Homo sapiens: one gene and its partner. The protein of the gene in region 1 purifies or fractionates together with the protein of each later gene. This does not show direct contact. Each region holds a gene or a part of one and is shown on either strand. Other genes may lie near its edges.

The links. The genes of interacting proteins can lie anywhere in the genome.
Region 2: the proteins of NT5C1A (region 1) and KLHL8 purify together in Homo sapiens (affinity purification with mass spectrometry; one large-scale study listed by BioGRID and IntAct). This does not show direct contact.

What each region holds. Positions count from the first base shown.
Region 1 is NC_000001.11:39,650,716-39,653,066, reverse strand, and holds the end of NT5C1A (cytosolic 5'-nucleotidase 1A), read left to right. Parts: 3' UTR 1-1,838; downstream 1,839-2,351.
Region 2 is NC_000004.12:87,172,055-87,175,715, forward strand, and holds part of KLHL8 (kelch-like protein 8), read right to left. Parts: intron 1-3,661. UniProt on the Homo sapiens protein: Substrate-specific adapter of a BCR (BTB-CUL3-RBX1) E3 ubiquitin ligase complex required for The BCR(KLHL8) ubiquitin ligase complex mediates ubiquitination and degradation of RAPSN.

The sequences.
Region 1 (2,351 bases):
CAACGTGTCCAGTTGGGCAGATTGTGCACTGCAAAAATCTAGAGGGCGCCATTGGTATTGTGACATGGGTAGTACCTATTAGACACCTGCACAACCTGCCAACTGTATACAGATGCCCTGGTCATCTCATGGCCATGGCTACGAAAGTTGCCTTCCCTCCCCACTACCAGCCCTGCCCAACCTAGGCAAAGATTCCTGCCTCTGCTTGAGTGTTCTAATGTGGCCCAGAAGTGACTTACCATTGACCTTAATTGGGAAGTATCTCCCTGATGGGCCATCCCCTAGAGGCCTTTGGAATTCCATTTATAAAAGTGAAATGTGGCTGGGAACTTTTCAGTTACTCATCTTTGCAAAGTGAAAGCCTCTGTAAGGCAAACCAAAGCTGTGAAGACTGGGGTCACTGACTCCCACACTCCTGGCCTGTGGGTGAATATATGCCTTCATGGCCATCTGCCACGGAATTAGGGTAAAGGCCTCAAGGCTAGTCTTGTAGCTAACTGCCACCAAGAAGCCACCAAGAAAATCACTGAGGTCACCCTAGACTGGATGCCTGGGCCAGGGTCACAAACCCCAATGCCTACAGGGGCGAGGCAGGAAACATAAATGAGTGGAGAGGATTAAGCCAGTTCTTCACTGAGAATGGAGAACACTGTGGTCTGCCATGGTTGCTGCCACATGGGAATGTGGCCTGAGGTTGCCGGATAGTCCGCCCCATTTTTGAAGAGAAGCTGGGAATCTGGACTTTTAAATGTTGGCAACTATTTTGAATTTAGAAAACACCATCTGGGCCAAATAAAACATATTCTGTAGGCGAGATCCGGCCCTTGAATCTCCAGTTTGCATCCGCTGGCCCAGGCCCAGAGACTTGGGTTTTTAAGACCCAAGTCACTGAGAGTCTGAGGATATTACACTCAGATTCTCAGTGATGGATATTTAAGAGACCTCAGAGATGACCTAGCTCAGCCTTTGTGTGTTCAAAACTGCGTATGTACAAACTTCTTTTTTTTTTTTTTTTTTTTTTTTTTTTTTTTTTTTTGAGACGGAGTCTTGCTCTGTCACTCAGGCTGGAGTGCAGTGGCACAATCTTGGCTCACTGCAACCTCCGCCTCCTGGGGTCAAGCAATTCTCCTGCCTCAGCTTCCTGAGTAGCTGGGATTACAGGTGCCCGCCACCATGCCCAGCTAATTTTTTGTATTTTTAGTAGAGATGGGGTTTCACCATATTGGCCAGGCTGGTCTCGAACTCCTGACCTCAGGTGATCCACCAGCCTCTGCCTCCCAAAGTGCTGGGATTACAGGCGTGAGCCACCACACTCGGCCTACGAACTTCTTTATTAATGTAATAGCGCACATATACTTAACTTCTGGTTTCTACTTAAGAGCATCTCAATAACCTCCGATATAGAATACGATGAAAAATGAAACCTGTGTGCATAATGTGCTTGTATCTACCTGTCAGAAGCCCTTTGCTTTGATAGCATTTGCTGCCTCAGTCTTCCTCATCACCCAACCTCTCTGGGTTGCTTGTTATGATAAACCTAAGTGCCTCCGTAAATGGTTAGAGCATGTGTTTCTTCGTCTTTGTGACTTCCCTTGTCTGGGAATAAGACTGCTTGTACTTCTCCCAGCTTTGCCCTCTTTGGCCTACTAGTAGCACACCCCATCGATCCAGACCTGTCTGGCTCTTTGTAACATTTACCTGGTCACATGATAAAGGGTGCTGAGTGCTTGCCAGTGTGGGTCCCTGTCACTTCTCATGCATGTCCTATACCTTAATTTTACCACATGTGCTTCTGCTTCTTAAAAGCCATTCAAATAAATGGAGAGGGTTTTAATTAACTTACGTTGTCTTGTTTTTTCCCCACAATTGTATTCACAAACTGGCATATGGCCCCTCATGAAATGCTAATGGTGACGTAGGTAATGAAGAGGCCTGGGACCCGATTCATCCACTAGTGCTGGGATCTTTCTGTAGAATCTGTCCCAGCACATGAAGACCACCCTGAGGGGAGATTCCGCAATGGACAGCAGCCTGAGAGCATCAGAAGGCAAGCTTCCCCCAACAGGGCTCCTCACATGGACTCGGTGTTCCCATCTGGAACTACCAAGGGTGGGGATGGAGAGGGAGGAAGAGAAGATGAGAAAGGATGTGAGATGAAGGAAGAAGGGGATAACTCAGACTCCAGCCCTCACATCATTCTTCTTCCTGCACCCCAGGGTCTTCCTACACCCCAGGGTCTTCCTGCACCTCAAAGTGTCTGCAGAGCAGGAATCCAAGAGTGGCTTTTCTGGGTGGTTCTTACTCAGAGCCTCTCATGAGGTTGTAGTCAAGCTGCCAGGTGGAGCTGCAGT
Region 2 (3,661 bases), on another chromosome or scaffold:
TGACTATGCTACATTATATGGCAAAAGGGAGGTGACCTTGGCGGGCCTAATCTAATCAAACAAACCTTCAAAAGCAGAGAGGTTTCTCCAGCTGATTGTCAGAAATTCAAAAAACCAAGTGAATGCAGTGTGCCATTGCTTGTTTGAAGGTGGGGGGGAACATGTGGGAAGGATCTGGCAGTGACTTGTAGCCAACAGCCAATAAAAATGAGAAACAGTCCTATAGCCACAAGGAACTGAATTCTATCAATAACCTAAATGGCCCTGGAAGTGGCTTCTTCCCCAGTGCCTCCAGACAAAAGCCTAGCCCAATCTCTTGATTCTGGCCTTGTGGGACCCTAAGTAGAAAGCCTAGCAAAACCTGCATGACTTTTGAACTGTGAGCTAATAAATGGGTGCTATTTTAAGCTGCTAAATTGGGGGCAATTTGTTACATGGACATAGAAAATTAATACAACCCCATCACAAAACAAACAAAAATTTTATCCCATTCACCATGTTGTTTTCCTAATTCAGAAATCATACCATTATCCATCCAGTTGCTTAAGGCAGAAACCGAAGAATCATCTTTGCCTCTACCTAACTGTTCTTTCTAATTATCATAAAGTGTTTTTGACCATACACCTCTGAACTATCTTTCAAATATGTCCTCTTTTCTCTATCTCAATTTCTATCAGTATAGTCTAAGCCACCATTATTTCTTTACATCAAGGGATGAAGAATTACAATAACCCTTTTTGGTCTGTCAGACTGTTTTCACTCTGGTCATCCTCAAATCCCTTCTCCATTTTGAATGCAGAAGTTCTCTGAAAAGAGAAATCTGATCCTACAATTCCCCTATTATTTAAATAAAAATATAAAATGTATATTTACTATACATGCATATTAAATATATATGTTTAATTCAAAGCCCATCAGATAAAATATCCTTGGCAAACTTGAAAGGCCTTCAACCTTTACTTACTCTTTCTGCCTCATTTCTAGACACTCTTCCCCTTAATCTTCCAACTACATTGGACCACTTTCATGCTCTTTGCTCTCTTTCATCGCCTGGTTTTTGAAGGCTCTTCATCTCCCTCCACTTACCACTCTTACCCCACCTATAATAACTTAATCAGGCTAAATTCTGCAGTTCCTTCAGATCATAATAAATGGGACTTCATTAAGATGTTCTCCACTCCTCAAGCACCCTTTACTCACCCCATGCTAATATTATTGCCCTTATGTCATTATTTGTTATCTTCTCTTCTACAATGTAAGCTATACAGAGGCAGAGACACTGGCTATGTTTTCTACTGCTGGTAGCAAAAAACAAAGTTGTATCTTTACCACTTGGTGTGTCTTGTGGTGGGCATTTAAAACTTTTTTTTGAATAAATAAGTGAACCTTTAGACATGCTGTCAGGATGATGGGTTTCAACAGACTCATAGCTTAAACAAACATCGGTGTCCATTTCAGTGGAAAGATGAAATAAAAAAATAAAGATAACCAGATATTTCACATGTGAAAATGTATTGAAATGCCAAAAAGATGATTTGGGGCTATATAAGTTATAAACAAATAATATGACAAAATAATTGTAGCTCTATTATTTTTCACACAGATTGTAAATGCTCGGGGCATATTTTAAAAGATTAAAGAAATTCAATTGCTATTTTGCTAGAGAAGTTTCATTCAATCTTTGGCTAAAAACCAACATAGTAACAGGGATATAAAGATTAAAAAAGTACTTTGGGATTTTATCTCCCATTTTAATCCATGCAGTTATCACATAGTGTAAATCACTCCCTATTAAAGTATTAAAATGTCATTTGTAGACAGTGGGAGATAACAGTTTAAGACTAGCTTTTTTTTTTTCTAGGATTCTTTTTCATGAGGGGAAAAAAAGCTTAAAATGTCTTCACATTTTTTTTTAATCTTTCATATTTTAACACAAGAAGCAAAAACCAGTTGAAAATATTATTAATCAAAAATAGAAAATTAGAGGCAACATATCCCCATGTGTGGTTTAGTTTTTAATTGCTCATTTTGATAACAAGTCATTTTTGCAGAATGGTGCTAATTTGCCAACCATATAAGCCACAATGTCTCAGGTATGGTTTTACTAGTTCAGGTTTGTTTCTTTTAATTAAACTGTGGGTGATACATTTATATATATTAAGGTCAGTATCATTATATATCATATATATGTGTGTATGTGTGTGTGTATATATATATATCACCTGCAAGTTTTTTTTTTTTGAGACGGAATTTTGCTCTTGTCATCCAGACTGGAGTGCAATGGCGCAATCTCGGCTCACTGCAACCTCCACTTCCTGGGTTCAAGCGATTCTCATGCCTTAGCCTCCGCAGCAGCTGGGATTACAGGCACCCGCCACCACGCCCAGCTAATTTTTGTATTTTTAGTAGAGACGGTGTTTTGCCATGTTGGCCAGGCTGGTCTCAAACTCCTGACCTCAGGTGATCCGCCCATCTTGGCCTCCCAAAGTGCTGGGATTACAGGCATGAGCCACCATGCCCGGCCCACCTGCAGTTTTATTAAAAGAAACTCTTCAGCAATATTTTCAATATTTACTAAGATAGCCCTCTTCTCTCTTCTCGCATTATATTTTCACTCTGACACAGAGACAGAATTATTCTAGTATCTAGTTTTATACAAATTATTAAGCTCAGTCTTTGAAATCCTCACGCTATTAACAGAACAATAAAGTTGAAAAAAAATAGGCAATAAAATTTAATCTCCCATTTGGTGCAAAATATATGTGATCTTTCTGACAATACAATTCCAATCACTAGGAGGAATTACAGTATGCTTCATTGCTACTATACTGAATCATAAACAAATATTTATTCCTTCCTACTAAATCAACATACACTCTTAAAATATCTAGTAACTCCTGTAAGTTTTCTTGTCTCCAGATCACAACGCTTCAACTATTTTTTGTAGATAACATGGTTTTCAGTTGTATTACTAACCTGCTAGTTTTTTCTTACATGCATTCCAGATTATCATTCTCACATTTATTACAATCCATTTTTGTGCATTTTCTATAGATCTTATTTTCAAATTATAAACATGTTACTGTACTAACAAGTTATGTTCATTATAAAACATCCACCCAAAATAAATTTTTAAAAATGTACAGAGAGTCTAATCTTTTATTCCCATACCCCAACTGGTGTTATATACCCTACTTCAACAATACATCTATAGATACGGAGAGATCAGTGTCAAGAACAATACAACTATAACTCCCTTAATCTAAGGCTTCACTTCTTTTAATGTAGGCAACTGTATTATATTCACTTTTTTCCTTTCCTTTTTTTTAAGAGCTGTGTTTCATAATGGTTCAGGTACTTTTCTCCATATGAAACAATCAAAAACCTGATTTCCCACCATGTTATGTTGTACTCGTGGGATTGAGTTTTTAAAATACCTAAGGCAGGTTTTAACCTATAACTCTAATTTTAACATTTTTTAGGTTTTTGTCTAGAGTATATGTGGTCTACTCCGTCTTTGGAATCCTGATTTGGTCACATGCCTTAGTGATCTTTCCACCTTAGGATATCTAAAAAGCTGGTATTCAAGTCATTAATGAAAGTGTCAAACAGGTTAGAGTACTAAGTATGTTACTAAAAATCTTCCCTTTAGACTGATACA